Linked DNA regions of Homo sapiens: region 1 is linked to region 2. Evidence: fine-mapped expression QTL. Tissue or cell type: whole blood. Region 2 holds a variant in brackets; the other region holds the start of a gene. All regions are shown on one strand. Distances are from middle to middle.

What was found. PIP is the estimated chance that this variant, and not a neighbour inherited with it, causes the effect.
Region 1: it holds the start of GZMB, and the variant in region 2 is the best candidate, but not a certain one, in a credible set for the expression of GZMB in whole blood (TOPMed, PIP 0.51).

Annotation. Positions count from the first base shown.
Region 1 is chr14:24,632,072-24,636,316 of GRCh38, forward strand. GZMB (granzyme B) reads right to left here and starts at 2,119. Exons shown (of 5, transcript NM_004131.6): 1 at 2,035-2,119; 2 at 844-991; 3 at 253-388; 4 at 1-47. The coding sequence starts at 2,089. It overlaps GZMH-AS1 (GZMH and GMZB antisense RNA 1), which reads left to right and starts at 1,031. Exons shown (of 3, transcript XR_007064087.1): 1 at 1,031-1,277; 2 at 2,225-4,245. RefSeq lists an enhancer at 1,498-2,697.
Region 2 is chr14:24,683,581-24,687,825 of GRCh38, forward strand. No RefSeq gene overlaps it. Among named protein-coding and RNA genes, the nearest start is that of GZMB, 52 kb to the left of the region's middle. The variant C/A (reference allele first, on the strand shown) is at 1,862.

The DNA of each region.
Region 1 (4,245 bases), 52 kb before region 2:
AGCCTGAGGGGCTGCACAGCTCTGGTCCGCTTGGCCTTTCTCTCCAGCTGGTGGGGAAGAGGCAAGAAAGTCCAGGTCAGCCAACGAACTTCTGGGCCCCGACACAGTGATGGGGCTGCACAATCTTCCCTCTCCTCTGAGGCATAGGAACTAACCAAGAGGCCAGGATGGAAAGGAGGGAAGGGCCGGCATTCCAGGGGGAGTGGAACCAACTGGACCAAGAAGAGCAAGAGTGGCAGGAGTGTGCCTCACCTGCAGTAGCATGATGTCGTTGGAGAAGTTCTTAGGATTATAGGCTGGATGGGGGATGGGTCTTTTCACAGGGATAAACTGCTGGGTCGGCTCCTGTTCTTTGATATTGTGGGCCCCCAAGGTGACATTTATGGAGCTGCACAGAGAGCAGAGTGAGGATGGGGGTGGAGTCACAGGGTATACAGCCCAGAGACAGTGAAGAGCAGGTGACAGCTGGGGCAGGGCTGCAGCTGAGGGGAAATTAAGGGGACAGTCGGTCCCCAGGAATTGGAATTCTGGTAATTGCACCAGGTTTCTCAGGGTTCGGTTCCCCCTAGAAACACAGGTGGAATTGCTTCAGTTTGTATTCTATGCCAAAGTATGCCCCCAGTTCTAAATATGGCAGGCTTGGTCACTCTGCTGTTTCTTACTTCAGCAGCACCTCTGGAACCAACCTTCCCCTCTCTCCACAAACTTAACTGCCCTTTTCTCACCCTCTAAGGAGACCTCCTGGCATGTGTGTTCACAGGAGCCCAGGGAGCTCCTTGGGAAGAAGGCAGGGGTCTCTGTGGAGTGTTTCCAGGAGGGTGTGGGCTGTTTTCTGCTCCTCACCTTCCCCAACAGTGAGCAGCTGTCAGCACGAAGTCGTCTCGTATCAGGAAGCCACCGCACCTCTTCAGAGACTTCTGATCCCAGATCATAAGATAAGCCATGTAGGGGCGGGAGTGGGGCTTGGCCTCATGTCCCCCGATGATCTCCCCTGAAGGAAAAGTCTGTCTGCTTGTGGGCACCCATGGAATCTGCTGGGTGGGCACCTGCTTAGTGGCTCCAGAACTCCTGGGCATTTGGGAGCCTGGGATAGCCTGGAGTTGGGAGTGGCCTGGAGGAAGGGGCTTCAATTTCCTGCTCTGAAAAAGGGAAGAACAGCAGACTTTGGTCTGTAAATCTTTCTTCCATATGTAGTTGAAGGCGAGCATACCTGTCTTAGGGACAGTGAAATCCCAGAGGCTCCTGATCATTCCTCTCCTGACTTTGCTTTGTTTCAGGTGAGTTTCCAAGACCCTTATGAGTCCTGTGGTGTCTAGGATAGTGCTGCTTTCTAATGGCCAGGGTGTAAGTGGAGGGATCTAGATACTGTCATATCCTGTTTCCTAGAGCCTGACATGTAGTGGGTGCCCAGTAAATGTTCATGGCTGCATGATGGACTGGCTCCAGTTAGCCTCTGGATGAGGGCTGGTAGAGCAGTGCTGGTGGAATTCTAGAAAGCAGGGAAGCTGGGGCCTGCCGTAGTGCCTCATCCTTGGAAAGAGGGGAGCCACCAAAGGCCAGGGAAGAAAAGCAGAGTTGGAGAATGGGACTGAGCAAACACATTAACAGTGTTCTGAGGACAGTGATTGTACCAATTCTGCTGTCAGCTGAGCTCTGGGTTTCTCTCCTAAGTAGACAGTGAGAGAAGCACCTGTCTTATCCCAGAAACAGAAGCCAGGCCTACTCTAGAATAATTTAATATTTCTCTTTTCTAGTTTCCCATCCTCTGCCATTTACTTCTAGGAAAGTCCTACTCTCCAGGTGACAAAGGTGGGCTCTGGGGAAGGGATAGTACCCACTGGCTCTTCTTGAGAATGGCCTGCTGCTCTGCCATTCCTGCTGATAGCTTATCCAGCATCACACTTGGGGGGTCTTGGTAGAATGGGAGCTGGAGTTCAGAACATTCCTGGTAGATAGATGGATCAGGAATGTGGAGAAAGGGCAGGAGACCTGTGGGATGGGGTTGGGCCCCCGAGGGTGGAGACGGTCACTCACCTGCATCTGCCCTGGGCAGCAGGAGGAAGGCCAGCAGAAGCAGGATTGGTTGCATCTTCTCAGGAAGGCTGCCCTGGTTGGAGCTGCTGTTGTTTCCTCCTTGCTCTCTTTTAGCTCTTGGGAGAGGAAAGAGGTGGAGCAGGCTCAGTGACTTCATGTTCCCCTCTGGTTTTGTGGTGTCTCATCACAGATTTTCTGTAAATGCTGCCCACCCCCACTGCCTCTGCCTGATGACGTCCTCTGGGTGCTTGTGTGAGAATCATGCAGTGACCACATCATCACCCACAGCTGATGACTCAGAGTGGACCACCTATTCAGCCCAGAGCAGGAACCCAAGCCTATGAAGTGAATTGTAGGATGTGGTATCAGCCAGTAGAGGTACTGGAGCACCAGAAACCTGAGTTCCCAGTGATAGAACCGCCAATGCCTCATGGCCATGCTGCTAAATCCATCAGGATAGTTTCTTTAGCAGGTATGTGTTTGAGCCCTTCTGTTGTGCTAGAACCAAGCATGTTGGAGATGTGTCTCCTTCACTTAGAGAGCTGACCATCTGGTTGAAGAGACGGAAATGCCAGGAGCCAGAGTACAGTTTGGGGAGGGCTATGGTAGCACAATACACAAGGCAGTAACAAAGCATGGCCACCATCTACTAGACCCATCTAGCAACCCATTTATTATCATAGCTTCCTTTCTAGAGAATTTCTAACATCCCTTATTTAGTTACAAATGTTTAGTGTGAGAGTCCACCTCTTTTCTGAATGCTTTCAATAAAAGTCCTGTACTTGACATTTTATTGGGCTAGATTAATGAATTGCTAGGAGTCAAATCCACTTTGGGTAGGCTGGGGTCAGTCTACTCAAGCCACTAGAACCAAGAATGAGAAAGGGCTGGTTCTCTAAAGGACGTTTGTGGTGCTAAATTGCTGATACCATATGAAGTGAGGAAGCATGCCAGGCAGCCAAAGATCAGTAGTTGTGTTGTTTAGTATTCTGTCTCCTGTCCAGAGAGCCACACTTCTTACATAGCAGGCTCAGCACATAACAGGCTCACAGTAAACATTTGCTAAACAAACTACACTAATGCTATCATTATAATGGATGTGAAAGATTGTTGTTTCTGAACAGCCCGTGCCCAATTCTGTTAAAAGACAACTAAGTCTCTCTACATGGTTCGATTCTTGTGATTTGTTTCCACCTTTATATTTTCTGTGAGGAAATTTTTCTATGAGGAATGGTATATCTCAAAATATAGAATTCCAGTGTAAACGTCTTCCTTGTCAATAGCAAGCCAACTACATTTATCAAACTTCTATTTTTTGAACCTAGCTTGCCCCATAGTAGACGTTTTAAAAATAATTTTTTCTGATTATAGTCATAATATATGTTTGTTAAGAAAATTTGGAAAGTAGGAAGGGAAAATATCACTTTTTAACCTGTCTCCCACAGACTGACTGTTACCATAAGCAGTGTGTTTTAAATACTTGGGATCACATTGTACATACAATGCAATTTATTTTATCCTTGATTAACCCTACAAATTAAGCATTTTCCCCATGCTCGTAGAAATCTTAGTCAATACAACTATAGTCTTTCTTTCCTAGGCATTAAAAAATTTAATATGCAAGTAATTTTTAAATAATTTTAGCAAAGCGAAAATAATAAACATTACCTAATTTCTCATCATTCACTGATAACCATCTTTAATGTCTTGAAATATGCTCTAGCACATTTTTTCTCATGTAATATCTGCATTTTTTAAAATTAAAAGGGGATTATGCTAAACATAAGTTTATGACCCATTTAAAAAATTGAGGTAAAATTCACATAACATACAATTAACCATTTTAAAGTATTCAATTCAGTGACATTTAGCACATTCAAAATCTGCAACCACCACCTCTGGATATTTCATATAAACGGAATCACACAATACATGACCTGTTGTGGCTGGCTACATTCACTTGTAATAATGTTTCTGAGATTCATACAAGCTGTAGCACATGCCAGTATTCGTTCTTTTTAATGGAAAAATAATATTCCCATTGTATGTTTATACCACAAGTTATTTGTTCATCTGTCAATGGACATTTGGGTTGTTTTCATCTTTTGGCTATTGTAGCTAATGCAGCAATAATAAGCATTTGTGTACAAATTTCTGCATGAACAATATGTTTTCAGTTCTTTTGGATATATACCAAATATATATACTTTT
Region 2 (4,245 bases):
TATTTAAAGCTTTTTCTCAGATATGTACATGTCCTCACATCTTATTAACTGAATTATTTCATGTATCCAAATATGTGAAGTGGAGACACATTGTCTCTCCGAAGAGGGAAGACAACTCACATGACAGAAAGTGAGTGAGGATAAATCATCCTATTAGACTATGGGAACAAATAATTGGGAATAATAATCTATCATGATCCAACATTGATCACATATATTTTCTTCCCTCAGAATACATCATATTCTTGCCCATAAAAACTTAGCCTAAGGGCTGGCTGACACCTGTGATTCCAGCACTTTGGGAGGTTGAGGCAGGAGGATCACTTGAGCCCAGGAGGTTGAGGTTGCTGTGAGCTGTGATCACACCACTGCACTCCAGCCTGTGTGACAGAAAAAGACCCCATCTCTAAAGTCATTTAAAAGCAAATTAGCCTAAGGGCCAACTTTGCTTTTCAAATAGTCACAGACTGGCAGCACTTTTGACAACCTAACTCTCTCAAACACTTTGTTGTATTGTTTTAATCTATTTGGTACTGGTTGGATCCATGTTCCAATAGACACAACCATTACTCATTTCAAGAAAGACTTTCTCTAGACTTGATTATGGGTATGTGGGTATATCATGCTTTCATAGGAACGTACTCTTGATCTCTTTTCCCTGAGCCGTTTTGTCCAGTGGTGGAAAAAAAAATGTCTGCAAGTCACCTTAATCCAACCAGAAATCTTAACATAGGCCTGATGATGACACCTTTGGTTCTGTCTTTGCCCTGAGATGGAGTATTAAAAGGCCTTTCTATTTCAAGGAATACTTAAATTTTATATTTTATAGGTGGGAGGTGAGAAGGATTTTATTGTCCAAACTTGAAGGCCCAGAATTTCTTTGCTGCCTATTTTCCATCTCATTCATTGAAATAGGTGAATTCTTTCTGAGCTCACCTCTTATTCATATTACCATCATGCTCTCTTTCAATTTTTCAATCCTTCTATATTTGTCCATATGCAGCAAGTCCATTAGGAACATTATCTGCCTTCCAAGTTTAGAAGACACAATTTGACCAAACTTTTCACGACTGCATATCATGAATCTTACTTGTCCAACCTCCTGGAAGAATTCCCTTGCTACCTAGCCCTAAAGTTAATGCCTCATATTTTATATTTTTAGATATGGTAGCACTTCTGTTACCAATTTTTTTATTAGTTGGCCTTTACTGAGGTTGCAAATAACTCCAACATATCAGTATTTAACAACAATAAACATTTATTGATTTCTTGTTCATGTTACATGAGGGCTGAGGGATTATCTGTGACTCAGCTCAGCTTGACTGTGTTCAAGTCCATGCGTCTTTTTATTTCAGGACCCAGAACTGATGTAGCCACCCTTATCTTGGACATATTGTTCTTATAGTGTGGAGAGCAGGAACAATAGAAACAGAGGTAAACCAGATAATCACATCAGAAACTTCTAGTTTGACATAGGAAACTTACATCTGGGTGGCCAGAACATGCTCATAAATTCCATGAGGAAGGAAGGTATAGTCATCCCTGGAAGAAAAAGTCACATGACCAGAAAGAGAGCAAATAGCTGGGGTCAATAATACAATCTTCTAAGACTCCCAGATGTATGTCTTTAGCACTGGCATCTCTTCCTTTTGAGCACCAAACATATATTTAACTGCCTACCCAACATTGCTATTGAGATGTCCAATAAGCATCTCAGATTTAATATGCCTTAAACAAAACTCCTGAGTGCTCTGTTCACCCCAACCTGTTATGCCCTGCCTTCCATACCTCAATAAATACCATCAGTATTCTCCCAGGTAATCAGGAGGAAACCTCCAAGTTTTATTTGATTCGCTTTTCC[C/A]TTTCATAGTCAATGCATGAGTAAATTCTGCTGGTTCTACCTTCAATATACATCCCGATTTCTTACCATCGCCAGCACCATCATCCTAATAATCTTCTAACTTGTCTCCCTGCTTCTATTCTTGCCTCCCTAGAATAAATTCCTCATACAGAAGACAGAGAGATCTTTGAAGCATGCAAACTATATCTTGTTAGTCCCTGCCCCAAACCCTGCAACGTCCTGGTTCCTACACAGACACTGGGTTTCTATTCTACATGGTCAAGTCAATAGTAGGTTCAGAGTGACAGAAAGATCAGTATTAGAAATTTATACACTTGGGTAAATCAAAAGAAATCTACTTCTCTAAAGGACAGTAAAAGCCCCTGTAGACTACACATCAAATGTATCAGCAACATTTTTCTGGACAAGTGGTGATTGTAAGCTTTTGGATCTCGAAATGTTTCATTAGCTATGAGTTCATGTCCTTTGTAGGGACATGGATGAAATTGGAAACCATCATTCTCAGCAAACTATTGCAAGGACAAAAAACCAAACACCGCATGTTCTCACTCATAGGTGGGAATTGAACAATGAGAACACATGGACACAGGAAGGGGAACATCACACTCTGGGGACTCTTGTGGGGTGGGGGGAGGGGGGAGGGATAGCATTAGGAGATATACCTAATGCTAAATGACGAGTTAATGGGTGCAGCACACCAGCATGTCACATGTATACATATGTAACTAACCTGCACATTGTGCACATGTACCCTAGAACTTAAAGTGTAAAAAAAAAAAAGTTTCATTAGCTAGCCACAGGTCACAGATAGCAATGTCTGAGTGAGTGAGTGTCACATCAGAACATTTGGAAGCTCAACCATCTCATTTTAGGTTCATTAAAAAAATTTGTATACATTTAAGGAGTACAAAGTGCAGTTTTGTTACATGGATATATTGCATAGTGGTCAATTCTGGGCTTTCAGTGTAACCATCACCCAAATAATGTGCATCGTACCCATTAAGTACTTTCTTGTCCCTCACCTCACTTCCACCCTCCCCACTTTATAGTCTCCAATGTGTATCATTCCACACTCTATGTCCATGTGTCCACATTATTTAGTTCCCACTTAAGTGAGAACAAGTGGTATTTGACTTTCTGTTTCTGTGTAGTTTCACTTAAGATAATGGCCTCCAGTTCCTGCATGTTCCATGTTGCTGCCCCCATCTCTACTACAAATACAAAAATTAGCTGGGTGTGCTGGTGCGCGCCTGTAGTAGCAGCTACTTGGGAGGCCGAGGCAAGAGAATCGTTTGAACCCGGGAGGCGGAGGTTGCAGTGAGCCGGGATTGTGTCACTGCACTCCAGCCTGGTGACAGAGTGAGACTCCATCTCAAACAAACAAACAAACAAACACCAGCAACCATGAGTTCATTCTTTTTTTATAGTTTGTATAGTATGAGGCTGGAAGAGTTCCGTGTGTCTCTTGGTATGGACTGTGGTTGGAGCCCAACTCTGCTGAACCAGGTACATTCAGGGTTATCCAACATCTAAGATCACTGGAGAGAACAGCATGCCACCATAGGTTTAGATGCAAATACAGCCCTCAGTTGACACCCCATCTTCCCCAGGCTGATAAAGCCTGATCCAAGTGATTCCTGAATGCAGTCATGTAGATCTAGGCTCTGTTATCCAGGAGTCCCTGAGAGTCATGCTAACTGGCCTTCAATGTGGTTCTAGTCCTCTCCTGCAGTTCTCCAGCATACTTCAAATAAAATTCAAAGTCCCGAAAATGTTTTTAAGGTCCAACATAATCTGGTTACTGCCTAACTTATTTCTTCTGCTGTGGCTACATTGGCTTCTTACTGGTCCTAGAAGATGCCAAGCTCATTTCTGCTTCAGAAATTGCACATGTATGGTCCCTTGAATGGATGCTCTTCATAAATCCCTCAGATGCCTTCTCTCACCATTTCATTCAGGTCTCTATCCACATGTCACCCCTCAACAAACACTTTTGGTCACTCAATCCAAAATAGCTCCTGCTCACATTCATATCACTTTATATTGCCTTTTTGTATCCACAATACTGACCACTCATCACTTGACATAATATGTTTATTTGTTTACTCTTTGTCTTCCCCACTAGGACATAAAATCCACAAGGGCAAGCATTTTGACTGTATTGGTTCCTTATGTATTCCCATCAATCGGAACAGCACTTAAAGAATTAAAAATGCTTAATAAATATTTGTAGAATAAATAATAAAATGCACGAGTGAATAAATGAGACAAAAGAGTTTGAAGAGGAATAAAGAAAATGTCTAGATGATGAAAATCCTTCTGACAACACCACACAGAAGTACAGTATTGTTTTATTGATGAGGAAACTGAGGCTTAGTTATTTT